Homo sapiens: one gene and its partners. The protein of the gene in region 1 interacts with the protein of each later gene in a pairwise test. Each region holds a gene or a part of one and is shown in the gene's direction. Other genes may lie near its edges. The genes, in order: MAPK6, CSE1L, DPPA4, SMAD6, DNAJC28, FOXO3 and ACTR1B.

Region 1 (4,096 bases):
CTTGAGAGAGAAAGGCCATCTTTCTCACTTAGAAGGCAAGGATAAGAGGATGTGTGAGTGACCATAGTGAAGAGGTAGGGATTGAGACAAATGTGAAGTGGGTTTATCTGTTGAGAATGATAAAGAAGACCGAGAGCATAAAGAGAAGGCCAGATAGCAAAGGTCACAATGAAATTGTTTAGTATGAATTTGTAATGAGCCAGATATGGGATATTGCAGCTAGTTTTCATCAGTTTTGTGTGGCCAGGGAGCAGAGAGAGTAGATGGTGGTGGTGATCCAGGGTTGAAGGTTGATATCATAAGGCATAGAAGTGTGTGGCTGGTGTAAATATAGCTTTCAGGCTGCGTGAGGAACTAAGGAAGGCCTACTAGACTATTTTATGGGAAGAACTGGATTTGTGGTTAACCAGAGTCCTAAGATGTGCAAGGTCAGTGTGTGAACTATGCTGGAGTGTGATGTGAAGCAGAGATCAAGAAATTAGTACAACAGAGATGTTTTACTGTTGTACTTCCCATCAGTGAAGGATGGGAAAGGGCTTTTATTACATACCAGACACTATGATTACATCTCATTTTTGTACCTTATGAAATATCTATGTCTACTTTATGCATGAAGAAACTGATGTTCATCAAGTTTTAGTAGCCTATCCAGCACTACAGTGCTAGTAATTGAGTTAAGCCAGTGACTTGCAGAGCTAGGATTAAAACCTATATATTAGGCCGGGATTACAGGCGTGAGCCACCACACTCAGCCAGAAAATCGTTTTTAAGTTGTAAATCAGGTAAGTTTTATTTCTGACAAATTAACTTTTTAATTGTGTAGTCCATTTTTCCCTTTTATAAGATGGGGACCTATTAGTACAATTAAGATGCTCATTTCCTGTTGTGTAGTATGTAGTGCTAAGGTAATCACTTAGCTAGTCATTGAAATAAATGAGATCAACATTTACTGTTTTTCTAAAGGTAAGCAATTCTTTTCTGAAAAACTTTTACCTTTTCCTCTGCAGCACTGGATTTCCTGGAACAAATTTTGACATTTAGCCCCATGGATCGGTTAACAGCAGAAGAAGCACTCTCCCATCCTTACATGAGCATATATTCTTTTCCAATGGATGAGCCAATTTCAAGCCATCCTTTTCATATTGAAGATGAAGTTGATGATATTTTGCTTATGGATGAAACTCACAGTCACATTTATAACTGGGAAAGGTAAATTGATCCTAAATTAGAAAAATAATATTTACTGAACTTTCAGTGGACCATATGTAGTGAGTTTTTTTAAAATTATGTATAAGACATTGTAGAAGTCTTAAAAATTTAGTAATGTAAAGATACAAAAATTAGTCAGGTGTGGTGGCAGGCGCCTGTAGTCCTAGCTACTTGGAGGCTGAGGCAGGAAAATCACTTGAACCCAAGTGGCCGAGGCTGCCGAGATTATGCCACTGCATTCCAGTCTGGGCAATAGAGCAAGACTCCATCTCAAAGAAAAATTTAGTAATGGTCCTTAATATTTATATCTATAAATAGCCGTTAATTAAAACATTTAATAAAGTAATTACTGGTTAGATGATATATGGGAAAAGTTAAATGCTACTTTGAAACATTTTCAAAGTCATTAAGGCATATTTATAAAGTCCTTTAACTGTGATTTTATGAATGTCAAAAATTTAAGATGTTAGATGACAAGACTCAGTCATATCCAATAAAGTATCTCCAGTGTCTCAGTGGTAGTTATATCTTAACATAAAAAGTATTTGATTCATATTAGATGCAGGATTTTTTTTTTTTTTTTTTGAGATGGAATCTCACTCTGTCACCCAGGCTAGAGTGCAGGCTGGAGTGCAGTGATGCAAGCTCAGCTCACTGTCCTGCCTCAGCCTCCCGAGTAGCTGGGATTACAGGTACCCAGCTAATTTTTAGTAGAGGTGGGATTTTATGTTGGCCAGGCTGGTCTCGAACTCCTGACCTCAGGTGATCTGCCTGCCTTGGCCTCCCACAGTGCTGAAATTATAGGCGTGAACCACCGTACTCAGCCAGTATTTGAATCTGTTTTCCTAATGACACAATTAATTTGGGGACACTTAACATAGGTTCAGTAAAAGAGACTTTTTTAGGTCTAAACATTAGTGTATAATGTTATCCATATTTTGATGTTTCATAAAGTGAAATAATTGGATTTCTAGGAAAGTTTGGCTGGGCGCGGTGGCTCATGCCTGTAATCCCAGCACTTTGCGAGGCTGAGGCAGGCCAATTACCTGTGGTCAGGAGTTCGAGACCAGCCTGGCTAACGTGGTGAAACCCGGTCTCTACTAAAAATACAAACATAAGCCAGGCTTGATGGCGGGCTCTTGTAGTCCCAGCTACTCAGGAGGCTGAGGCAGGAGAATCACTTGAACCTGGGAGGCAGCAGTTGCAGTGAGCCGAGATTGCACCACTGCACTCCAGCCTGGGCGACAGAGCAAGACTCCGTTTCAAATAAATAAATAAATACATTTCTGGGGAAGTTTAGATATAATTCTGCTTCAGAGTAGGATGGTAGCTTATAGAGTCATCAGGTGATTTTGATGCTTCAGAGTAGGATGGTAGCTTATAGAGTCATCAGGTGATTTTGATGTATGGCCAAGTTTGGGAACCACTAATGCCAATCTTTTTAATCTTAAGATTTTAAGAAGAAATTTTTTTCCCCCTCCTCAAATGTTGATGTATTGGTATGGTATGTTTACACAAATCTGCAAACTACTTTTTTTCTCCATGTGTCCATTTCTACCCCCTAAATAATGGTTCTTTTCTTTTTTGAGACGGAGTCTCACTCTGTTGCCAGGCTGGAGTGCAATGGTGCCCATCTCTCTGCTCACTGCAACCTCCTGAGTTCAAGCAGTTCTCCTGCCTCAGCCTCCCTACTAGCTGGGACTATAGGCACCCGCCACCATGTTCAGCTAATTTTTGTATTTTTAGTAGTGGGGGTTTCACCATGTTGGCCAGGCTGGTTTCAAACTCCTGACCTCAAGTGATCCATCCACCTTGGCCTTCTTGAAGTGCTAGCATTGCAGGCCTGAGCCACTGCACCTGACCTGCATTTTCTATTTTACCTAGCTAAGTTATCTAATCTCTTTTCTTTTCCCTCAATGATTATACATGTCAGTAATAGGATAGCGCATTCAGCAGCACGTATACACAGGGAGATTTTTGCTATTCATGGTGATGAGTTTTCCAGCAAACCTCCTCCTCTTCTAGTTGCCCTTACTGTAGAGTAAACATTTAGCAAACCTCCTCCTCTTCTAGTTGCCCTTACTGTAGAGTAAACATTTGTAAGGTACCTGATTGAGATTTGAGATCTGCATTTTGTGGCTATGAAGTCTTTTGTTTGCATGGAACTGGTGGACAAAAAACAAATTGGAAATGAAGTTACATACTGCATTGGCAATTACCAAATATATTAACAGAGCTTTCCTATCAAGACTAAGTTCTGGTAGGGCAAGGCAGGCATATTTACTCTCCTATAATTATCCCCTCATAGACCTAGCACAGTGCTGTCACATAGAAGGTACTCGGTGAATTTGAAAATGAAATCATATACGTAGAATAACGCTAGTGTATTGATTTTTTTCAGGTATCATGATTGTCAGTTTTCAGAGCATGATTGGCCTGTACATAACAACTTTGATATTGATGAAGTTCAGCTTGATCCAAGAGCTCTGTCCGATGTCACTGATGAAGAAGAAGTACAAGTTGATCCCCGAAAATATTTGGATGGAGATCGGGAAAAGTATCTGGAGGATCCTGCTTTTGATACCAATTACTCTACTGAGCCTTGTTGGCAATACTCAGATCATCATGAAAACAAATATTGTGATCTGGAGTGTAGCCATACTTGTAACTACAAAACGAGGTCATCATCATATTTAGATAACTTAGTTTGGAGAGAGAGTGAAGTTAACCATTACTATGAACCCAAGCTTATTATAGATCTTTCCAATTGGAAAGAACAAAGCAAAGAAAAATCTGATAAGAAAGGCAAATCAAAATGTGAAAGGAATGGATTGGTTAAAGCCCAGATAGCGCTAGAGGAAGCATCACAGCAACTGGCTGGAAAAGA
Region 2 (3,665 bases), on another chromosome or scaffold:
AATTTTGTTAGGTGCTCAGAAAAGTCCTAAATTTATATTGTTGATTTTTTTTAATTCTTTAGTGAATCAGTTGACCAATATAGGAAACAAATCTTCATTCTGCTATTCCAGAGACTTCAGAATTCCAAAACAACCAAGTTTATCAAGAGTAAGTAAAATCATCTGGATGTTCTACAGAAGTAATGAAAGAAGGTAGCTAAAACCCTTAGACTTTATGGTTGCAGATACATTTTTTATCCGTTTTAAACTTTATGCAAAAAATACTTGGCCACGTGTGGAGGTTCATGCCTGTAATCGCAGCACTTTGGGTGGCCAAGGGAGGCCGATCGCTTGAGCTCAGGAGTTCAAGACCAGCCTGGGCAACATGGCGAAACCCTGTCCCTACGAAAAGTACAACAAAATTAGCCAGGCATGGTGGCATGTGCCTGTAGTCGCAGCTGCTTGGGAGGCTGAAGTAGGAGCATCACCTAAGTCCCAGAGGTTGAGGCTGCAGTGAGCCAAGATTACACCCACTGCACTCCATCCTAGGTGACAGAGTGAGACCCTGTCTCAAAAAAAAAAAAGAAAATATTGTAAGGGCCTGGTGCAGTGGCTCTCATCTGTAATCCCAGCACTTTGGGAGGTGAAAGTGGGAGTATTCCTTGAGTCCAGGAGTTAACGACCAGCCTGGGCAACATGGTAAGACCCTGTCTCTACAAAACAGCCAAGCATGGTGGTGTGTGCCTGTAGCCCCAGCTACTCAGGAGGCTGAGGTGGGAGGATCACTTGACCCTGGGAAGTTAAGGCTGCGTGAGCTGTGATCACGCTCCTGCACCCAGCCTAGGTGATAGAGTGAAACCTTCTCACAAGAAAAAAGAAAATATTTTAAGATGTTTGTGTTCTCCAAACATTAAGTTAGTGTTAGTCATATTGTGTTCCAGAGGTTGGTTTATGGTTGGATACCAAAACATTTTTTCAGTAGAGAGAATATTATAAGGAAATATAAATCAAAGAGAGACAGCATGTAAAGGTCTATGACAGAAAGACAAGTTTTCTATTTACTAGAAGGCAGGTATTGATGCCACAGCCTTTGGATGTTAATGATTAAGCATAGGTTTATTTTGCAGACTTATCAGTTACCAGTTTAGTGCGTGAGTTCTCTATGCTGATATTCTGCATCTTCTTTCAACAGGTTTTTTAGTCTTTATTAATTTGTATTGCATAAAATATGGGGCACTAGCACTACAAGAAATATTTGATGGTATACAACCAAAGTAAGTTTGTTTTTATTATTTTTTAAAGGAAGAAAATGTTTTGACTTTTTTTTTAGTACAAATCAGTATCTCTGTCTTATAGATGATGATGTGGTTCTTGGTATGGAGATAGTGTCTATGGTTTTCAAAATATTCTTAGGTATTGGGAGTAAAGAAAAAGTAATCCTGGCCCAGCATGGTGGCTCACGCCCGTAATCCCACACTCTGAGAGGCTGAGGAGGGCGGATTTAGCTCAGGAGTTTGAGACCAGCCTGGGCAATATAGTGAGACTCCATCTCAAAAAAAGAAAAAACACCCTGGAATCATTGTTCTAATCCTCTAGATTAGAGGACCATCTACTCTACACACTGGCATTCTCCACAGCCAGTGTTCTATATTATGTTAAATGGTCAGTGTTGTCTCCAGGAGCCTGCCTTATTAAAACTAACAGCAGAAAACACCACATGTTCTCACTCATAGGTGGGAATTGAACAATGAGAACACTTGGACACAGGGCGGGGAACATCACACTCTGGGGCCTGTCGTGGGATGGGGGGCAGGGGAAGGGAGGGCAGAGGGAGGGATAGCATTAGCAGAAATACCTAATGTAAATGACGAGTTAATGGGTGCAGTAAACCAACTTGGCACATGTATACATATGTAACAAACCTGCACGTTGTGCACATGTACCCTAGAACTTAAAGTATAATTAAAAAAAAAAACCAGAATTTTCCTTCCCCCTTTTTTAAAAAATCGTGCTAATCCATATCGTTCCAATTTTAGTATATGTGCTGCTAATGCAAACACAGCAGAATTTTTCAAATGAGAAATACTTAGGACCAATAAATTAACTTTGTTTTTGACTTATCTGGTATATATGCAAAGAATGTATTTAGGTGGCATTTCCCATTAGTAGGGAATAAAACAATTATAACGATAAGATAAAGAACAACTCTTAGGGAAAATTTCTTCGGGGACAGTTAGATCCCTGTACCTCAGTTATGTCTCAAAAATTCTACATTGACTAAAAAATGAATTACTCTGGAAAGGAGACCAGAAAACATGGCTTCCGGCAGTAGGGGATTTTGAGGAAATCTCATGCACTGCTAGTGGGAGCCTGAATTAGCCTGATCTTTCTAGAGAGCAAAATGTATGCACTTTTTATCCAGAGCATTAGAATTGCCATACCCTTTGAGCCATATTTCCACTTCAAAGAATTGGTTCTATTAACGCATAAACTGAGGATTTTGCATCATTTAGAATTACGGAAAACTTCACTTCTAGCATGTTTGCAACAACATAGAATGATTGGCCGAATTATTTTAAATAGCCATTAGCATTTATGTACCTGCAGGTATGTAAGCAAAGACAGTTGGGAAGCTTATAACCCAAAAATGTTAAAACTAGTTGTTTCTGGGTGGTGGGATGATTCCTTTTTTCCCTCCTTGCTCCTCTCTCTTTTTTTTTTTTTTTTCTTTTTTTTTTTTGAGACTGGCCAGGTGTAATTTTTAAAGAAAAAAGCAGAGAGGGCCAGGAATGGTGGCTCACGCCTGTAATCCTAGCACTTTGGGAGGCTGAGGCAGGTGGATCACCTGAGGTCAGGAGTTCGAGATCAGCCTGGCCAACACAATGAAACCCCATCTCTACTAAAAATACAAAAATTTGCCGGGCGTGGTGGTGGGCACCTGTAATCCCACCTACTCAGGGGGCTGAGGCAGGCAAATTGCTTGAACCCAGGAGGTGGAGGTTGTAGTGAGCTGAGATCACACCGTTCCACTCCAGCCTGGGCAACAAGAGCGAAACTCCGTCTCAAAAAAAAAAAGAAAAGAAAAAGATTATGGCATTTGGCTACAGGGTAGAGGTGTGATGGGGTTTTTTTATGTTTTGACTTTCAGTCTCTTCAGATGATCAAAAACAGCAGTCTTGTTATTTAGTAATTTATCATATTCATAAGAAGTAACTAACATCTAAGCATTTTACTATTTCATTATAGTGATAATCTAATATTAAGTTGATTTATTTTGCTTTAATAGAATGTTTGGAATGGTTTTGGAAAAAATTATTATTCCTGAAATTCAGAAGGTATCTGGAAATGTAGAGAAAAAGATCTGTGCGGTTGGCATAACCAAATTACTAACAGAATGTCCCCCAATGATGGACACTGAGTATACCAAACTGTGGTAAGTACTTCATTTTAATATTTTTGTAAGTTACAGCTTCCTTCCCATATGACTGCAAAATTAACAAAGCTTATTCTCTTGGGGGCCAAGAGAATCTTGGTCTGATCTCAGCTTCTCCACAATCAGATCCAAGACATGATTTCTGGATCCTTCTGGGCTTAGAATGATCTTGTTTCCTGCTTCTTTTTCAGGGGGATTCATGGACCCCTTTAAGAGTCTGATCTAGGTGATCTCTAAGACAATTTTATGACAG
Region 3 (4,096 bases), on another chromosome or scaffold:
TGTTCCTCCACCCCTAGTTCTAAGAAAGAACAATATTTCCCATCTCTACTTCTCTTTTTTTTCTTTCTTTCTTTCTTTTTTTTTTTTTTTTTTTTTTTTGAGACAGAGTCTTGCACTGTCACCCAGGCTGGAGTGCAGTGGCACCATCTCGGCTCACTGCAACCTTCACTTCCCGGGTTCAAGCAATTCTCCTGCCTCAGCCTCCAGAGTAGCTCGGATTACAGGCGCCTGCCTCAGGTGATCCACCCACTTCGGCCTCCCAAAGTGCTGGGATTACAGGCGTGAACCACTGTGCCTGGCCAGCAATTTTCTTTTTTTCTATTTTTTTCTTTTCATTTCTTTTCTTTTCTTTTCTTTCTTTTTTTTTTTTTTTTTTTTTTTTGAGACAGAGTCTCCCTCTGTCACTTAGGCTGCAGTTCAGGCTGCAACCTCTGCCTCCCTGGTTCAAGTGATGCCCCTGTCTCAGCCCCTGGAGTAGCTGAGATTACAAGCATGAGCCACCATGCCTGGATAATTTTTGTATTTTTAGTAGAGACGGGATTTCACCATGTTGGCCAGGCTGGTCTCGAACTCCTGACCTCAAGTGTTTCACCCACCTTGGCCTCCCAAAGTGCTGGGATTACAGACCTGAGCCACTGGGTGGCCAACTGAGCAATTTTCAAGAAGACAGTACATTGTTATTAACTATGTATAGTTACCAACTTGTACAATAGATCTCTTGAACCTAGTCCTCCTAAGTGAAACTTTGTATTTGATCAAGAGCTCCTTAGGCCATTTTTGTTAGAATTTTAATCTGTATTTTTATCTTTATTATTTAACCCTTTTTGTAGGATTTTCCTAGCACAGCAAAAGAGGCCAAAATCCGGAAATCATTGCAAAAAAAATTAAAGGTGGAAAAGGGGGAAACGTCCCTGCAAAGTTCTGAGACACATCCTCCTGAAGTGGCTCTTCCTCCTGTGGGGGAGCCGCCTGCCCTGGAAAATTCCACTGCTCTCCTTGAGGGAGTTAATACAGTTGTGGTGACAACTTCTGCCCCAGAGGCTTTGCTGGCCTCCTGGGCGAGAATTTCAGCCAGGGCGAGGACACCAGAGGCAGTGGAATCTCCACAAGAGGCCTCTGGTAAGCGCAACATGAAGAGCTTATTCTGGTCCAATGGGGAAATAAGCTTAGTAGATATTAATCACTGGTACATTTTAGGGTATATCAAAATCCCTTTGAGGGCCGGTGATTCCTGGACCCTGCCCACAGAGTTTCTGGTGCAGGTCTAGGGCAGGACCTGAGCATTTATTTGCATTTCTTTTTTTTTTTTCCTTTTTTTTTTTTTTTTTTTTTTTTTTTTTTTGAGACAGTTTCTCCCTTGTTGCCCAGGCTAGAGTGCAGTGGCGCGATCTCAGCTCACCGCAACCTCCACCTCCCAGGTTCAAGCAATTCTCCTGCCTCAGCCTTCCTGAGTAGCTGGGATTACAGGCATGTGCCACCATGCCCGGCTAATGTTGTCTTTTTAGTAGAGATGGGGTTTCTCCATGTTGGTCAGGCTGGTCTCGAACTCCCGACCTCAGATGATCCTCCCACCTTGGCCTCCCAAAGTGCTGGGATTACAGGCGTGAGCCACCGTACCTGGCAAGAGTTTGCATCTCTAACAGTTTCCCAGGCAGTACTAAGGATGCTGGTCTGGGGACCACAGTTTGAGAACCACTGCTCTAAATTATTGATGGCATCAGAAGGGGATAGCAGTCTGGTTTTCTTTCTTTACCCTTTAAGCAATTTAAATTAAAGGCAAGGTCTAAAATTAATTGCCTGCAACTGAGCCCCAGAATGGCATTAATAAGTTATTTAAAATATTTCCCAGCGTTTTCATTGTAAAATGGGTAATACCTACCTTATATGTTGGAAGAATTACAGAAAGTACAACAAAAGAAGACAAACTGCTTAGCATAATCCAATGTGTGTTAAGAGCTGAGACCCCTGAGCTTATTTCATGAAGCCCTTTCCAGACACTCTGGGTTAGTCTTTCTACCATCTGCCCACCTACAACTATACTACTTCCAACTAGATTTTTAAGTTTTAACAGGAACTGTCTTGTATGCTTTTTGTTTTGTTTTGCTTTTGATATGGAGTCTCGCTCTGTCACCCAGGCTGGAGTGCAGTGGTGCAATCTTGGCTCACTGCAAGCACCGCCTCCCGGGTTCACGCCATTCTCCTGCCTCAGCCTCCTGAGTAGCTGGGACTACAGGCCCCCGCCACCACGCCTGGCTAATTTTTTGTATTTTTAGTAGAAACGGGGTTTCACTGTGTTAGCCAGGATGGTCTCGATCTCCTGACCTCGTGATCCACCCGCCTCGGCCTCCCAAAGTGCTGGGATTACAAGCGTGAGCCACTGCGCCCAGCTTGTATGCTTTTCTAAAGGAGAACAGAATAGAGAAGAGGTTAAGTTAGGATTTCAGGGTTCACATCTTGGAGCTGGTCAATCAAGGGTGATGGGCCATAATGCAGTCTTACATCAGTATGTCATCCTGGTGTGCGGGTACCTGTCTCTTTCCTTTGCCATTGCCAGGTGTCAGGTGGTGTGTGGTCCATGGGAAAAGTCTCCCTGCAGACACAGATGGTTGGGTTCACCTGCAGTTTCATGCTGGTCAAGCCTGGGTTCCAGAAAAGCAAGAAGGGAGAGTGAGTGCACTCTTCTTGCTTCCTGCCTCCAATTTTCCACCCCCGCACCTTGAAGACAATATGTTGTGCCCCAAATGTGTTCACAGGTAATTACCTGATGCTTTTCTACAAACTAAAAGTGGGTGCCGGATTTTCAATTGCAGAAAGTTAAGATATACATTAATCTTAAATAGCCAGGTATTTCAAGCTCAAATTGTCAGTAAAGAGTTTCAAGAAAATTATTACTCAGTTAAGTTTATCCCCAGGAAAAAGAAAGCATTTATGTGTCAGGGTTTAATGCTTCTACCTGGAGACACAGAATTCTGGGAGCAACAAACATTATATAATTACTATATTCAAAGTGTATGCTCTACACAGAAATAATGACTAGCAAAAAACCTCTTCCTTTAAGTAGCCTACAGTCTTAACAGGGATGGTGGGCATGTAAACACCTAGAATAACATGATGAATATCAAAGAAGAGGTTCCTTAAGTTAAGGGAAGAATCGACTAGATGGAAAGGAGAGATCGGTAATTTCTCAGCCTGGGAAACGTAGCAAGACCATCTCCCACAGGAGGAAGTATGTGAATGTGTGATTGGCTTTTCCTTCTTTGGGATATCCTACTTTTTGCTGTGAGTGTTTTGATAATCTCTCTATGCCAAGCAAGTTGAAGAGAACTGAGGAGGTCACTTTGGGTAGTCCTTTAATGACATACTTAGGTTTTTGGGAAAGTGATGAAAAGAGCCCCTCCAAGGCCTCCTGTCCATGGTTGGCACAAGTCAGGGAATATATTACAGAGGCATGATAACTTGGCTGATGATCTTCATTCTTGAATGACAGGATCACAGGCTTGCTACCTATGATCCTAAAGTTGTAAGGGCAATTTCAACAGCATTCCAGCAGCGGGTTTCTTGGCTATTTTTAATATTTCTTCATTCTTTTTAAAAACAAATACTTTATTTGCTTTATAGGAACAAGGTCTTAATAAAAAGCCTCCAATGGGAATAGAATATCAGGAAAAAGGCCACATCTATGGTAATTAATGGCAGAAAAGCTGGAGAGTTGGATTCTGCGGTGCTGCTGACAGGTGAACTCTGGTCCTCTGCACCTGTTTATGGGCCATGCAGACTGGTGGGGTGGCAGATGTTAGCCTAAGACCCCTAGCAGTGCCTGTTGCTTTGTGAGTGGAGATAGAGACTCTTACATTTAAAAATGGAAAAACATTTCACAAATTACCATAAATTGTAGTTAATATGTAGAAAAACTCATTCATACTACTTTTCTAAAATAGACATGACTTCAGCAGCAGCTTTTTTTTGTTGTATTTTGAGACAGTGTCTCACTGTTGCCCAGGCTGGAGTGCAGTGGTGCAATCTCAGTTCAGTGCAATCTCCGCCTCCTGGGTTCAAATGATTCTCCTGCCTCAGCCTCCTGAGTAGCTAGGTACAG
Region 4 (3,500 bases), about 15 Mb from region 1:
AAAGTAAGTTAGTGGTTGCCCAGGGTTTTGGGGTTGGGGTCTAGAAAGTGACTGCCAATGGGGATGGTGTTTCTTTTTGCGATAAAAAAAATGTCTTGTGTTTAGATGGTGGTTGATGGTTGCACAACACTGTGAATATACTCAAAAACCACTGAATGGTATATTTTTAAAAAGGATGAATCTTAGGGTATGTGAATTATATCTCAATTTTTGGAAAGGGTCACCTGATATTGGTCTGTAACTGGCCTCCCCTGTAACACCTGCAGCTACCTTCATGTGTGGCCTTGGGCAGGTCCTTCAGCAAGTGGGACCTTAGTTTCATATCAGTGAAAAGAAGGAATTGAGTTGGGTGAACCCCAAGGCCTCTTCTGTCTTTGACACTCTAAATCCTTGTGTTGTGGGGTGGAGTCTAAAGCCTTCATACTTTTTTAGTTGCCTACAATGGAATTTAGTGATTAGCTTTCAGTCCCTGCAGTTGTTAAACAGTTGTGTGCATACTATTTTGCCAGAGCTAATGGGAGCCTGGTGAGGTCCCTCCTGAACGGTTTGTAGTGCTCCACTAGCTGGCATGTCTCATGGTTCAGGTTCATAGATTTTCTTTCTATCTCACAACATTGGAACTCCCAACTCAGCTATGGCCATGGGTAGCAGGTGTCACAACTCAAGGCCCAGGTAGCTCTTCCAGGTGGGACTTCATGAGCCTTTCCTGCCTTCCACCTTTTGAGTCCCAGGTAAGCAGCCCCTGGAAGAGATGCTGGCATTGGTTACAGAGGCTTGACTCCAGCCACTACTGCCCATAGTTGTCAAGATTCACCTTTGGGGACAAATCTTGGGGGCAGATGTTCAGAGCTCCATGCCATGTGTGGCCTAGACCTCAGCCAGTCAGATTTTTGCAAAAGTAACCCTAAGGAATTGCAGGCTTTCTGATAAGTTCATGGGGGTGGTGGAAAGGGCATGGAGGTCAGAGACCTGGCTTTGGTTCTGGCTCGATACCTAGCTCCTGAGGGAGTCACTTCCACTCACCAGGCCACAGTCTCCTTCTCTGTACAGTGGAAACACTGGCCTCAATTCTCTTTTCCTGTGGAACTCCAGCCCTTCCTATGCCCTGCCTCTTATCCTGAGAGGCTGGTCCTCACTCAAGGCTGGCCTCTAGGCCTGAGAGCCCCCTAGATCCTCTTTCTGCACATCTTTGGCCACAGATGCATTCAACTTTACCATTATCCTCATCCCAGTTGTCTGTGTCCACATTTAGTGAGCGCGTTCTGTGCAGGTGGTGTCCCAGACCCAGCGGGGATGAAGGGGTGTAAGACAGGGCATCTCTTGATTCCACCTTATTGGGTGGCAGAGCAGAGTCAGGCCTGGACTGGAATCCCAGCTCCACCATGACTGGCTCGGGGAACATGCGCAAGTCAGTTTTCTCATCTGTAAAATGGGGATAATAATGTCATCTCATTTAATTTTTGTATTTTGAGAAAGGATTAAATAAAAATAGGTGCCTGATGAGCATAATTAACTACTCTGTACCTGAGGTCTAAAATAGTAAAATTGAAAGTGATTGGCATGGAGTGAGACACAACGTAGACACCGAGCAAATGTTCGCGTCTCTCTCAGTGGCTACTCTGTGATTCACTTTTCCTTCTCCCTAATTTCTGTCCACAGAAAGTCTCTGTTTCTAAACCTCAGAGCTTTGACTTTGTTGGAAGTAACTTTGAGCTGGAAAAGCCGGGGTGGGGAAGAGGTGAGGCCTCATTGGGTGTATGGAGCAAAACAAATGCTCCTGTAACTAATTGTGGCTTATTACAATTGTGAAAAACACTTATTACCCCTTGTGTCATTACTGATACCCGCTTAATAATAGTTATTACCACTGAGAGTTTGTTTTAGTTTGCGATTTGATTGTGTTTAGTTTCATTTACCGAAAATGAAGGGTCATTTCATTCATGCAAATTGTTACTTAGTTTAGCAAATTGTTACTTCCCATAAAGCAAGAAGCTAAGGAATTCTTCTGAAAGCAAAGTATATGTTTTTAAGGAGAAGTATTTTAGGCAAATGAAACCCAAAGAAAAATATCATAGACAATAAGGAATCATAGCATCTGAGCTGTAGAGAGCTTGTGTTCCACCCCTGTCCTTTACAAAAGGGGAGACTGAGGCCAACAGCTGGAAGTGACTGGCTTAAGGCCTATTGAGATAGCTGGGTTTGGCCTTTTGGGTCCTAACCCTTTCTACTGTCCTCCCCTGCACCTAGGAATGCTAGCTCTAATGCAGCTTGTTTGGACACGAGTTTCTGTGTCTGGGCCTTTGCACTCACACTAGGCTTGCCAAATTTAGCAAATAAAATGCAGGATGCCCAGTTAAATTCGAGTATCAGATAAACAACACACCATATTTTAGTATAAGTACACCCCCAATATTGAAAGGGACACACTTATACTACAAAATGATGCCATGTTTATCCAAAACTCAAATGTAACTGAGCATCCGGTATTTTATCCAGCAACCCTGGCTCTGACTTTCCCTGCACTCACGTTTCTCTTGTTAAAGTAGTAACAGTTACTGTTTATGGAGGTGTTTTTGGACAGGGCCAAGAGCTGCACTAAGCATTTTACATACATTATCCCAGCAAACCTGGGAGGTCTAGATGATTATTATCCTCATTTTAGAGCTGAGGAAACAGGCTCAGAGAGGTGAAGTAAGTTGCTTGAGGTCACACAGCCAAAGGTGGCAGAGCTGGGATTGAGCCCATATCTGTCTGTGCCCCAAGCCTGCGGCTTTAACTGTTGAGGGGATTTGGGCAGCAGAGGAGGTGGGACAAAGGGAGGGCTTCCTGGAGGCTGAGTTTATTATTTGGGAAACCAGTAATTAAAAGCATGTAGAACCTGAGGTGTGAGCTCCCCAACCCTGGCAGTGACATGCTGTCTCCTGTCTTCCAGAATCTCCGCCACCTCCCTACTCTCGGCTGTCTCCTCGCGACGAGTACAAGCCACTGGGTAAGTGTGCCCTCCTTCCTACCCTTGCAGAGGTGTGTCCCGAACTGGGTCCTCTTCAGCCCAGTGTCTGTCCAGCCTCAGGGCTGGAGGGCTGGAGGGCTGGAGGGGAGGGGTGAAAGCCGGACTGGTTGCTGTGAAATGGGGTGAAGTTGTACAAACACTCCCACAGTTGGGCCAAAGCAGACCCAGCTTCTGCAGCAGGCTATTTACATCTCGAAATTCCGCGGCTCATCATTAACCTCTCTGTGACCTTTTTAAACATGGGCCTGTCGAAGATGAATGGGTTTTGACTTATGCATCTCACCGGAGGTGGGTTGGCATTTCTGTGTCTCTTTCCTCTCTCTTGGGCCCCCCAGCCTTGGGTTATTCTCCTTTAGAGTGTATTAATTAGTAGTATGACAAATAGGTTGGGCATGAAGTCTTTGTTGAGAGGAGCTGTACATTTTCCCCCTTTTTAAGCCAAGATGTTCACTTGAGCAGAAACAACAATTGGAGTGTTAAAAAGGAATGT
Region 5 (4,854 bases), on another chromosome or scaffold:
TTACTGGGCCTGGAAGCAGAAGAGGGGGATGGCTACTGGCAACTTTTAGGAAGTTTTGCTTGGTGGCTTTTTTTTTTTTTGAGACAGTGTCTCGCACTGTCACCTGGGCTGGAGTGCAGTGGCGCAATCTCAGCTCACTGCAACCTCCACCTCCAGGGTTCAAACGATTCTCCTGCCTCAGCCTCCCGAGTAGCTGGGATTACAGGCATGCGCCACCACGCCCATCTAATTTTTTGTATTTTTAGAGAGATGGGGGTTTTCCGTGTTGGTCAGGCTGGTCTCAAACTCCCGACCTCAGGTTATCCACCTGCCTCAGCCTCCCAAAGTGCTGAGATTACAGGCGTGAGCACTGCGTCTGGCCTTATTTTTCTTTTTAAAAATTTTTTAGTGGCCAGGTCTTTTTTTTTTTAGACGGAGTCTGGCTCTGTCGCCCAGGCTGGAGTGCAGTGGCACGATCTAGGCTCACTGCAAGCTCCGCCTCCCGGGTTCACGCCATTCTCCTGCCTCAGACTCCCGAGCAGGTGGGACTACAGGCGCCCGCCACCACACCTGGCTAATTTTTTGTATTTTTAGTAGAGACGGGGTTTCACCGTGTTAGCCAGGATGGTCTCGATCTCCTGACCTCGTGATCCGCCCGCCTCGGCCTCCCAAAGTGCTGGGATTACAGGCGTGAGCACCGCGCCCGGCCAGAAATCCTATTTTCTTTCACATGAGTTATTTTGTTGATTGTTTGCTTATAACTAAAGCCCTCAGAATCAGAGTTTATACTGTATCTTTTTCTGTGTTCCTACATAGATGGCAATAAATGATTCTAATGTTTATGATGTAGAAGCTGAGGAGGCTAATACCTATTTCTGGCTCCTTTTAGGAGACACAGTCATAACAAAAAATATTGCTTAATGTGCGAGGCACAGTGCCAAGTGGTTTACATACATTGTGTAATTCTCCCCCTAAAAAAGTCAATGAAGTTGATACAATTATTATTTCATTATATGTAAAATAGGGAAAATAACAGCATTTATCTCAGAGGGCTGTTGTAAAGATTAAATGAATGCCTGTAATCCCAGCACTTTGAAAGGCCGAGGCAGGCAGATCACCTTAGCTCAGGGGTTCGAGACCAGCCTGGCCAACATGGTGAAACCTGGTCTCCACTAAAAATACAAAAAAATTAGCTGGGCATGGTGGTGCGCGCCTGTAATTCCAGCTACTCGGGAGGCTGAGGCAGGAGAATAGCTTAAACCCGGGAGGTGGAGGTTGCAGCGAGCCGAGATCGCGCCACCACACTCCAGCCTGGGCGACAGAGCGAGACTCTGTCTCAAAAAAAAAAAAAAAAAAGTAAATGAGAATATACATAAAGCACTTAGCACAATGGCATACTATTTACTATAGTTTACTATTTATTGCAACTCTCATTTTGCAGGTATCTTGCCTAAGGTGCAAGCAGAAGAAACAGGATTTTCAACCCAGATCTGAAAACTCCCAAGCCTCTGCCTTTTTCTTTTTATCCTTTTTCTTTTTCCTTGTTAAAAAACTTGCTTCCTGTACAGAGAGGGGAAATGCTCAGTCCCCACGTCAGTGGTTGAACTCCAAGCCAGAAGATCCCTATTTTGATTTTGTCCTCTGGCCTGTCGCCAGCCCCTCAACAGTACTTGAATTAATAAAAGGGCAGGTTTTAAGCCTCATGTATCTGCGCAGGTGACTCCTTCTGTGACCCCGAATAAACCTGTTCCGGTCCCGTTCCGGGGAAACAGCCTTGCCTTCCCCTGCCCCCAGAAAGTTACCCTCGCCCTCCGAGCCACAACTCCCCACGCCGCCAACTCGGTCTTTACATCATTTTCGACGCCCCCTAAGTCCCTCCCGAGAGGCGCAGGCGCACATCGCCCCTTCTAGCGAACTACATCTCCCACAATCCCAATCGGCCGGACCACCTCCGCTCGGGGCGGGGACGGAGGTGGAGCTGGTGGTCCCCGGTCGGGACGAAGGCTCCCGAGGTGCCCTGCCTGGGTCCTCCGGGGTAAAGTTCGTTTGGCGGAAGATTGTCCGTTTTCCTGGTAAGGTCACCTGTCCCAATCAGGTACGATTCTGCCTTCCGTACCCCCGAGCCCCTCAGTGTAAAGTGGCAAATGGTCTAGCCCGGCGGAGGCACCAGCTGGAGGCGGTGGGAGGGACACCCGCAGTGAAGGGCGGACCGCGCACGCATGCGCAGAGGCGCGGCAGGGGGGCGGGAGCCGCGGAACCCCTACCCCAGGTCTGCGCAGGTGAGGAGGGGGCGGGGCAGGACCGACCTCCCTTGCCATGATAACCACCTTCGCAGCCGGCTCCCAGACCGTTGGCACCGATTGCCTAGAAAATAGGGGGTCTCAGGAGCTCCGTTTTAGCGTTTATATATCCCAATTCCAATTAAGCCACTTCCAGTATTTTTTGGCCATTGTCAGTGTACAAGTCTTCCTCCTCTTCGAGACCATGTTATTGCAATAGCAGCAAACGTGTTGGGAGGCCTCACAATTCATCATGGTTTTTCTGGCCTCTGGCAGATAGCTCCTTCCTAGCGAGCTGTGGAGCTTAAAGTCTTTTGGACACTTGATTCTATTCAATCCAGTATCAGACCAGGTACGTACCTTGTCCATAAGTCGTCTTATGAGAAGACTTCTTGAGATGATGCAGACTCTCGTGCAGTTTATAATCGGCTGGAGGTATAGACAGTTAAGCAAGCCTCCTTTTTTACTGTGCCCACCCCTAACCATTTTGCTTACACCTTGTTATGGGACTTGGTTAAATTGCTTAACCTTCCGGACCTACGTTTTCTCATTAAATGAGAAGATTGGATTAGATGATCTCTAAGAACTTTCCACTTGTAAAATATACGGTTAGTTAGTGAGGGGTAGAATCCAGATTCTATCTATCTATATTTTTTTGAGACAGAGTCTCACTCTGTTGCCCAGGCTGGAGTGCAGTGGCACGATCTCGGTTCACTGCAACCTCCACCTCCCGGGTTCAAGCGATTCTCTTGCCTCAGCCTCCCGAGTAGCTGGGACTGCAACCTCCAGTTAATTTTTGTATTTTTAGTAGAGACAGGGTTTTGCCATGTTAGCCAGGCTGATCTCGAACTCCTGACCTCAGGTGATCCACCCACCTCGGCCTCCTAAAGTACTGGGATTACAGGCGTGTGCCACCGTGCCTGGCCCCACAATATGTTAACACTAAACTTCATCAGCTTCCACTTTTCTGCCCACATCAGTGAAATATAGCTATAAGAATGCAGCTGGTGGGGCTGGGTGCGGTGGCTCACGCCTGTAATCCCAGCACTTTGGGAGGTCGAGGCGGGCAGATCACAGGGTCAGGAGATCGAGACCATCCTGGCTAACACGGTGAAACGCCGTCTCTACTAAAAATACAAAAATTAGCCAGGAGTGGTGTCGTGCACCTGTAATCCCAGCTACTTGGGAGGCTGAGGCAGGAGAATCGCTTGAACCCGGGAGGCAGAGGTTGCAGTGAGCCGAGATCATGCCATTGCACTCCAGCCTGGGTGAGACTCTGTCTCAAAAAAAAAAAAAAGAAAAGAAAAGAAAAGAAAAAAGAATGTGGCTGGGCACAGTGGCTCACCCCTATAATCCCAGCACTTTGGGAGGCAGAAACTGGCAGATCGTTTGAGCTCAGGAGTTGGAGACCAGGGTGGGCAACATGACGAAACCCCATCCCTACAAAAATACAGAAATTAGCCAGGTGTGGTGGTGCACGCCTGTAGTCCTAGCAACATGAGAGGCAGAGGTGGGAGGATCACTTCAGCCCAGGAGGTTGATGCTGCAGTGAGCCACGATTGTGCCACTGCACTCCAGCATGGGCAACAGAGCAAGACCCTGTCTCAGACAAAAAAAAAAAAAAAAAAGGCTGAGCGCAGTGGCTCATACCTGTAATCCCAGCACTTTGGGAGGCCGAGGCGGGCAGATAACCATGTCAGGATATCCAGACCAGCCTGGGCGATATGGTGAAACCCCTTCTCTACTAAAAATACAAAAAAATTAGCTAGGCGTGGCTCTGGAGGTGGAGGCACCACTGCACTCCAGCCTGGGTGACAGAGCGAGACTCTGTCTCAAAAAAAAAAAAAAAAGGAAAAAGTTGACAGCAGCATTCAAAAGAACTGCCCCTTGTTGTACTTATAAATTCATGCTGTATCTTTTACCTTATTGCTGAAAATAAGAAATTAACTGATAATACAACTTTGTTCAACCTATATTTGTTGTCGTTTTATAGGTCATTGCTAGGAAGAACTCTGGGTACAATAATGAATACAATGTATGTGATGATGGCTCAGATCTTAAGATCTCACCTGATAAAGGCTACAGTGATTCCTAATCGAGTGAAAATGCTTCCATATTTTGGTATCATTAGAAATAGAATGATGTCAACCCATAAATCCAAAAAGAAGATCAGAGAATATTATAGACTGCTGAACGTGGAGGAAGGATGCTCTGCAGATGAAGTCAGGGAATCTTTTCATAAGCTTGCCAAGCAATATCATCCTGACAGTGGCTCTAATACTGCTGATTCTGCAACATTTATAAGGATTGAAAAAGCTTATAGAAAGGTGCTCTCCCATGTGATAGAACAAACAAATGCCAGTCAGAGTAAAGGTGAAGAAGAAGAAGATGTAGAAAAATTCAAATATAAAACACCCCAACACCGACATTATTTAAGTTTTGAAGGTATTGGTTTTGGGACTCCAACTCAACGAGAGAAGCATTATAGGCAATTTAGGGCAGACCGTGCTGCTGAACAAGTGATGGAATATCAAAAGCAGAAACTACAAAGCCAGTATTTTCCTGATAGTGTAATTGTTAAAAATATAAGACAGAG
Region 6 (4,096 bases), on another chromosome or scaffold:
GACTACAGGTGCCCGCCACCGCGCCCGGCTAATTTTTTGTATTTTTAGTAGAGACGGGGTTTCACCATGTTAGCCAGGATGGTCTCGATCTCCTGACCTCGTGATCTGCCCTCCTCAGCCTTCGAAAGTGCTGGGATTACAGGCGTGAGCCACTGCGCCCGGCCCATTTCTTAAATTCTTAAGATGGCCCGCTTAGTAATTACTTACTCTTTTTATGGTGGGGAATAGGGGAGTCAAGATTACCCACACCCAGCACTGCAGACTTATTAAGGCCTTTATAGAAAGTGGCCATTTCATCTCCACTGGTGTTGGGGTATTCGTGGAAAAGGGTGGTAAGCAATTCAGTTAGTCCACATAGCCAGTAGGGAAGAACCAGAAAAGTATAACTCATCTACTTAGGATGAGCGGCTCTCCTTGTTTTAGCATGGAAAGTCCCATGTCCTAGGAAATCCCTCAGTCCGGAAGTCTAGAACAGAATCTTATCTGCACCTTGAACATCTAACTAAAAAGGACCCACCAAAACACCCCTAATATGGCTTTCTTTATCTCCCAAAGTGAATGATCCCATTCCCTTTGGGCTTTTCAACTTCAGAGCATTTTGTAATAAGGACAACATGAGAAATAAGGTAAGTAATCTTTGTGCTTTGTCCTTAGGATTTCAGACCTTTGAAACTGGTGTAGCAGAGCAGCTTTGCTGTGCTAGCCCTGGGCTCTGAGGTGGGTGAGGGAGATGGAAGGCCTTGACAGGTGGCCCTCAGGTGCCCACTATTGCTGTTGCAGTGCCCTTAATGATCTCTGGTTTTCTTTTCTCCTCCTTTAGACCCTCAAACTGACACAAGACCTACAGAGAAAACCCTTTGCCAAATCTGCTCTCAGCAAGTGGACAGTGATACCGTTTACAGCTTAACACCTTTGTGAATCCCACGCCATTTTCCTAACCCAGCAGAGACTGTTAATGGCCCCTTACCCTGGGTGAAGCACTTACCCTTGGAACAGAACTCTAAAAAGTATGCAAAATCTTCCTTGTACAGGGTGGTGAGCCGCCTGCCAGTGGAGGACAGCACCCCTCAGCACCACCCACCCTCATTCAGAGCACACCGTGAGCCCCCGTCGGCCATTCTGTGGTGTTTTAATATTGCGATGGTTTATGGGACGTTTTAAGTGTTGTTCTTGTGTTTGTTTTCCTTTGACTTTCTGAGTTTTTCACATGCATTAACTTGCGGTATTTTTCTGTTAAAATGTTAACCGTCCTTCCCCTAGCAAATTTAAAAACAGAAAGAAAATGTTGTACCAGTTACCATTCCGGGTTCGAGCATCACAAGCTTTTGAGCGCATGGAACTCCATAAACTAACAAATTACATAAACTAAAGGGGGATTTTCTTTCTTCTTTTGTTTGGTAGAAAATTATCCTTTTCTAAAAACTGAACAATGGCACAATTGTTTGCTATGTGCACCCGTCCAGGACAGAACCGTGCATAGGCAAAAGGAGTGGAGCACAGCGTCCGGCCCAGTGTGTTTCCGGTTCTGAGTCAGGGTGATCTGTGGACGGGACCCCAGCACCAAGTCTACGGGTGCCAGATCAGTAGGGCCTGTGATTTCCTGTCAGTGTCCTCAGCTAATGTGAACAGTGTTGGTCTGCTGGTTAGAAACTAGAATATTGATATTTTCAGGAAAGAAATCAGCTCAGCTCTCCACTCATTGCCAAATGTCACTAAAGGGTTTAGTTTTAAGGAGAAAGAAAAGGAAAAAAAAAAAAAACAAAAAAGTCCTGTTTTGCTTTGCAGAACAAATGAACTTACAGGTGAGCATTAAGCTTGCAGTGAGAAATGTGCGAAGAGTAAAAACCCAAGTCAATGCTGAGGCAGTTCTAACTTCACTGTTTTCCTAAATACACATCCTTGATTATTTTCAGCCTTGCTATATAATCTGATCTGCTAGAAGTGTATGAGTGAGAGGCAATAGCATACAAACTGATTTTTTAAATATAAGCTTAGGTTGTAATTGTACAAGTGACTCAATGGAAGTACAAAATAGGGCAGTTTTAACTTTTTTTTCTGCTTCTATGGATTTCATTTTGTTGTGTTTTCAAAAAGTTATGGTGCTGTATAGGTGCTTTCTGTTTAACCTGGAAAGTGTGATTATATTCGTTACCTTCTTTGGTAGACGGAATAGTTGGGACCACCTTTGGTACATAAGAAATTGGTATAACGATGCTCTGATTAGCACAGTATATGCATACTTCTCCAAAGTGATATATGAAGACTCTTTTCTTTGCATAAAAAGCATTAGGCATATAAATGTATAAATATATTTTATCATGTACAGTACAAAAATGGAACCTTATGCATGGGCCTTAGGAATACAGGCTAGTATTTCAGCACAGACTTCCCTGCTTGAGTTCTTGCTGATGCTTGCACCGTGACAGTGGGCACCAACACAGACGTGCCACCCAACCCCCTGCACACACCACCGGCCACCAGGGGCCCCCTTGTGCGCCTTGGCTTTATAACTCCTCTGGGGGTGATATTGGTGGTGATCACAGCTCCTAGCATAATGAGAGTTCCATTTGGTATTGTCACACGTCTCCTGCCTCGCTTGGGTTGCCATGTTTGAGCGATGGCCCTGTTGATTTCACCCTGCCTTTTACTGAATCTGTAAATTGTTGTGCAATTGTGGTTATAGTAGACTGTAGCACATTGCCTTTTCTAAACTGCTACATGTTTATAATCTTCATTTTTAAAGTATGTGTAATTTTTTTAAGTATGTATTCTATTCATATGGTCTGCTTGTCAGTGAGCCAGACTTGCTTACTATATTCCTTTATAATAATGCTAGCCACTTCCTGGATTCTTTAGTAATGTGCTGTATGCAAGAACTTTCCAGTAGCAGTGAAGGAGGGTTGCCTCTCCAAGCTTCCTAAGGGATGCTGCCCTGTGTGGGGATGCATTGCAGAGGCACTAGTAGCATGGGGGCTAGAGTGGGGAGCGAGATGTAAAAGGGTGGGGGGATAGGAGAATTCCAGAGTGCTTCCAGCATTAGGGTCCTGAGAACTTCTGAGTTCAGAGAAACATGCAAAGTGACTAACAAAATAGCTACTTACCTTTGCAGTTTTACAGACCCTGGGAGCTGCTTTGGGAGTGAGAAAGGCAACCCTCCAATGTGTTTCAACTTTAAAATGTTGAATTCTTTTCAGACATGGTATCTCATTTATTCTCCTTTTCTAGCGTTTGTTGAATTTCAGGCAGAATGTCTTACAGAATGTCCTAGAACCAGATTATCATTTAATCTGAAACAGCTGAGGAAGGGACAGAGAAGGTACAAGGGCAAGGCAGCACAAAACAGATCAGGAGAATGAAGAGGGAATGCTTTGGTTTTTTGTTTTGTTTTGTTTTTTCTTTTTCAAGTAACTAAAACAGCATCTACATGTAGAGTGTTGTGGAGAGCTGAGACCAGGGTAAAGTCAAGTGCAGCATCAGTACTGCGAGACCCACCAGCCCCTGGAGAGGGTCAGCCGAGAATCTGGTAGTGAAGCCTGTCTAGGGTCCCGGCACCCTCACCCTCAGCCACCTGCAGAGAGGCCAGGGCCCCAGAGACTAGCCTGGTTCTGAAGTGGGCAGGGGTGCTGCCAGAGCCCTCTGCCCCTTATGTTGAGACCCTGCTTTCAGGACAGGCCAGCCGTTGGCCACCATGTCACATTCTGAGTGAGTGTCACAGGTCCCTAACAATAATTTTCTGATCTGGAGCATATCAGCAGAATGCTTAGCCTCAAGGGGCCTGGCAGCTGTAATGTTTGATTTATGATGAGAACTATCCGAGGCCACCCTTGGCCTCTAAATAAGCTGCTCTAGGGAGCCGCCTACTTTTTGATGAGAAATTAGAAGAGTACCTAATGTTGAAAACATGACATGCGCTCTTGGGATCTGCTGTTCTCTCCAGGGCTCCAGAACCTGATACCTGTTACCAAAGCTAGGAAAGAGCTTTATCACAAGCCTTCACTGTCCTGGCATGAGAACTGGCTGCCAGGCTCAGTGTACCCCATTAACTGTGAATGAATCTGAGCTTGGTTTCCTTTATTGCTTCCTCTGCAATATGATT
Region 7 (3,399 bases), on another chromosome or scaffold:
GACGGCAGCACGCTTGATGTAAGTGGCCGGGCCTGGCACTGGAGTGGCAGCCGATGCCCAGCCTGGGGGAAGGGGTAGCCCGCTTCTCCAGGAAGCCTGTCTGCCTCAATCTTGTACACTAAAGGTGGGGCCTGCACGATTCCGGGCCCCCGAGCTGCTGTTCCAGCCGGACCTTGTCGGGGATGAGAGTGAGGGGCTCCATGAGGTGGTGGCCTTCGCCATACACAAGTCCGACATGGACCTGCGCCGGACGCTGTTCGCCAACATCGTGCTCTCAGGTGGCTCAACGCTTTTCAAAGGTACTGTGGCTTGAGAGTTGGTGGTGGTGAGACGAGGCCCAGGGCAGCTGGACCCTCAGAGAGTATACCCCTACCCAGAGCCATATTCTGTTGGCTTTTTGGTGGTGCTCAATGAACATTTTTTTTAACAGACCAAAATTTAAAATTAAATTTTGTTTACTCTGTGAATAGAGGAGAAGTTTACACAAGCTCTAAAGTGTATTGTGAGAGTCGAGCAAGGAGCATGTGCGGCTTCATCTCACGCTGCCTCTGTGAGGACGCAGGGCCCGCAGGCAGCCATGGGGCTGGATCATTTCTCAGCCTTGCCCTTCATCCTGGGAAGAGCTGCTGATAGAGGACCAGCAGTAGCTGGGGGCCCTGAAGGCTGGGTGCGGGAGCTAGCAGCGAGGAGGCCGGGTGCAGACCCCAGGCTCAGCCAGCTTTGTGTTCACAGGCTTCGGAGACCGATTACTCAGTGAAGTGAAGAAGCTTGCCCCAAAGGATATCAAAATCAAGGTGAGGTTACAGAAACTCCCCCTGGGGCACTAGGGCGCTGGCAGCCTTGGCATGGGGAGGAAGGTTGAATGCTGCCCCCAGACCCGCTCACCAGCTCACGTCCACCTAGTCCTGTTCTTCCCAAGGCTGCTGCTGCCACTCCCCAGCTTATGCCTTTGCTGTCAGGCTTCAGGACCTGGGGAAGGTGACCCCAAGGCTGGGAGGATGGCTTCTGGGTGGGGATCCACAGTTAACGTGGCCACTTCCTCCTTCTAGATCTCAGCCCCGCAGGAACGGCTGTACTCCACATGGATTGGGTGAGGCGGGGCTCAAGGGAGGGCTCTGGGAGGAGACCACTTTACCCTGGATGCTCCTCCCATTGTTGGCCTAGGCCACGTGGAGGTGGGTGGATTTCCCTCCCAAATTAGGGAAATGCAACTCTGAGCACCCAGGAAGGTGGTTGGCTCCCTGACAGGTCCACAGCAATACTATCCCTCCATCCCCACAGCGGCTCCATCCTGGCCTCGCTGGACACTTTTAAGAAGATGTGGGTGTCCAAAAAGGAGTATGAAGAGGATGGCTCCCGTGCTATTCATCGCAAAACTTTCTAGTGCCCAAGGAGGGCGGGGCATGTTGGGAGAGGGGGAGGGAGGGGAGACAGAGCCTTTAACCCTTTTTGGTCTTGGCTCGTATACTAGGCTTAGGGTCCCCTGCATGCCCTGAACCCCTGGGTGGGTGGCACAGCAGTGCCCCCCTGCAGCCTTCCCCTCTACACAGGACATGCACACACAAGTAACATTGAGCTGCATGGACAGGAGCCTTGAGCTGGCGTGTGGGAATTGAGCGCCATGTCAGGCTGTTGTGGGTATCCCCCTGGCAGGGCCAGCTAGGCCTGTGGTTCCCTGCTCCGACTCTCAGGGCTGCCTCCCTGAGCTCCAGGGCCAGAATGCCTGGATGCCTGGGTAGCCAGTTTGGGGAGTGGGCTGCAAGGGGCAGCCAGCAGCTCCCACTGGTGTGTCACTGCATCCATTGCCACCTCCTGTTCGTGACCTGACAGGGTGACACAGCCCCTTTCACACTCTGTCCTCCTATCTTCCTGGGTAGATGCCCTGGTGTAGGGCTGAGTACTGAATGGTCTTCCATCCCCAGCAAGGGGGTGCAGCCCAGGGTCAGGCCCTTCAGAGCCAGGGCAGAGGATGCACGGTGGCTAGAGCCGCTGCACTATCCTTTTCAGAGCACTTCATCCACTTGCTCCTCCCTCTACCCTCGGCACCCTGGGTGGGAAAGGGTTGATGCTCATCATTTATTGAGGGGAAGCCACTTAATAAGGAGTCAGACCTAAAAGGGGGTGGGGGACATTTTCTTACCTCACCCAAGAAAGAGGTCGTCACTTTTGCTGTGGCCAGGGCCCCACCTCCCTCTCTCAGATATGTACAATAATTTAACACGGTTGCCTGAAAAAAACTTTTGTAAATCATTATAGTAATAATTATGGACAAGGCCCAGTGTGTGGCTCTGTTTTCTTGTGGCTCTCTGTGCTATCGTTTGTTCTTCCATCCCTGGGGACTTTCAGAGAAAGGACCAGAGAGAATGCAGCAAGGCACTGGCTCTAGCTTAGCGGCATGAAGGTTTCAGTGGTTGGCCCGCCAACGTGGCACAAAAAGCCTCAGGAGGCTGGGCTCTCACCCTGTAGCATAATTCCCTCGCCTGTTACCTCCCCTGCTGCAGTCCACCAGGGGAAGTAGAACCAGGCTACCTTCTTTGCCCCCGGACCCTGGACAGGCCTATTTGAGCACCTCTGCTCACCCCATTCAGCCAGGGCTAAGGCTGGTGGACACCAGCAATGATGCAAGCTCACGCCTTCAGACAAGTCAGGATGGGGAAGGCAGGGAGAGGCAGAGAGGCTGTGAGCTTAGCCAGGCCCTAGAGGAATAGGCAGAAGAGCAGTGAGGAATTAGGGTTTGGAGAATGTCTGCTCTTTACTTTCTTAAGTGTTTGAGAACCTACAGTGTTTCCAGGATGGTGCCGTGTGTTTGGGGCCAATGGTCAACAAGTTATATCCTTGCCCTAACAAATACACACGTCAAGGGAGAAAGACAGATGAGCCATTTTAGTACAGAGTTGTGGGGGCCGAGGCGTTAGTCATCTGGCCCGACAGGTGGGGCAGGCCGACTTGCAAGGATCCAGAGGTTATCCAGGGATGGGGAAGGCATTCTATGCAGATGTGAGAGCCCAAAGAAGCACCTGGGACCAGTGGGTCTGGAGAGGAAGGCAGGGACCCAATGCCCAGTCAGCAGGGAAAGGTCAGTGGTCTGTGGTCATTGTGTGAGATGAACAAAAAAGGTGGGTTGAGCTGGCACATGGAGGATTGTTAGCTGTGTCCTGGGAGATGGGTGGCCAGCCATAGAAAGATGGTGACCAGAGCAGTGTGTTGTAGGCAGTTGGGGTTTGTGGGGGGTGAGGGCAGCCCCAGGACTGAGGAGATGAGGTAGGAGTGAGGAGAGTACTGAGGCCTGTCTGCCAAGGCGTTTTGTGAGGCTTTGTGGTCACAAGGCAGTTATGCTTGCACTGGCCCTCAAAGGGAAAGCAGAATTTGCACGGAGAACTCCATATTAGGGCACCCTCC

What was found.
Region 2: the proteins of MAPK6 (region 1) and CSE1L interact in a two-hybrid assay, tested with the Homo sapiens proteins (one large-scale study listed by BioGRID and IntAct).
Region 3: the proteins of MAPK6 (region 1) and DPPA4 interact in a two-hybrid assay, tested with the Homo sapiens proteins (one large-scale study listed by BioGRID and IntAct).
Region 4: the proteins of MAPK6 (region 1) and SMAD6 interact in a two-hybrid assay, tested with the Homo sapiens proteins (one large-scale study listed by BioGRID and IntAct).
Region 5: the proteins of MAPK6 (region 1) and DNAJC28 interact in a two-hybrid assay, tested with the Homo sapiens proteins (one large-scale study listed by BioGRID and IntAct).
Region 6: the proteins of MAPK6 (region 1) and FOXO3 interact in a two-hybrid assay, tested with the Homo sapiens proteins (one large-scale study listed by BioGRID and IntAct).
Region 7: the proteins of MAPK6 (region 1) and ACTR1B interact in a two-hybrid assay, tested with the Homo sapiens proteins (one large-scale study listed by BioGRID and IntAct).

The regions. Positions count from the first base shown.
Region 1 is NC_000015.10:52,060,292-52,064,387, forward strand, and holds part of MAPK6 (mitogen-activated protein kinase 6), read left to right. Parts: intron 1-1,007; coding exon 1,008-1,209; intron 1,210-3,610; coding exon 3,611-4,096. UniProt on the Homo sapiens protein: Atypical MAPK protein. Phosphorylates microtubule-associated protein 2 (MAP2) and MAPKAPK5.
Region 2 is NC_000020.11:49,090,875-49,094,539, forward strand, and holds part of CSE1L (exportin-2), read left to right. Parts: intron 1-62; coding exon 63-148; intron 149-1,171; coding exon 1,172-1,253; intron 1,254-3,265; coding exon 3,266-3,412; intron 3,413-3,665. UniProt on the Homo sapiens protein: Export receptor for importin-alpha. Mediates importin-alpha re-export from the nucleus to the cytoplasm after import substrates (cargos) have been released into the nucleoplasm.
Region 3 is NC_000003.12:109,327,547-109,331,642, reverse strand, and holds part of DPPA4 (developmental pluripotency-associated protein 4), read left to right. Parts: intron 1-830; coding exon 831-1,119; intron 1,120-2,554; coding exon 2,555-2,753; intron 2,754-3,618; coding exon 3,619-3,655; 3' UTR 3,656-4,096. UniProt on the Homo sapiens protein: May be involved in the maintenance of active epigenetic status of target genes. May inhibit differentiation of embryonic cells into a primitive ectoderm lineage.
Region 4 is NC_000015.10:66,708,736-66,712,235, forward strand, and holds part of SMAD6 (mothers against decapentaplegic homolog 6), read left to right. Parts: coding exon of another isoform or gene 1-3; intron 4-1,659; exon of another isoform or gene 1,660-1,738; intron 1,739-2,932; coding exon 2,933-2,989; intron 2,990-3,500. UniProt on the Homo sapiens protein: Transforming growth factor-beta superfamily receptors signaling occurs through the Smad family of intracellular mediators. SMAD6 is an inhibitory Smad (i-Smad) that negatively regulates signaling downstream of type I transforming growth factor-beta.
Region 5 is NC_000021.9:33,488,822-33,493,675, reverse strand, and holds the start of DNAJC28 (dnaJ homolog subfamily C member 28), read left to right. Parts: upstream 1-1,959; 5' UTR 1,960-2,074; intron 2,075-2,274; exon of another isoform or gene 2,275-2,610; intron 2,611-4,251; 5' UTR 4,252-4,282; coding exon 4,283-4,854.
Region 6 is NC_000006.12:108,679,007-108,683,102, forward strand, and holds part of FOXO3 (forkhead box protein O3), read left to right. Parts: intron 1-820; coding exon of another isoform or gene 821-907; 3' UTR 908-4,096. UniProt on the Homo sapiens protein: Transcriptional activator that recognizes and binds to the DNA sequence 5'-[AG]TAAA[TC]A-3' and regulates different processes, such as apoptosis and autophagy.
Region 7 is NC_000002.12:97,654,843-97,658,241, reverse strand, and holds the end of ACTR1B (beta-centractin), read left to right. Parts: coding exon 1-18; intron 19-124; coding exon 125-299; intron 300-732; coding exon 733-794; intron 795-1,049; coding exon 1,050-1,090; intron 1,091-1,281; coding exon 1,282-1,384; 3' UTR 1,385-2,303; downstream 2,304-3,399. UniProt on the Homo sapiens protein: Component of a multi-subunit complex involved in microtubule based vesicle motility. It is associated with the centrosome.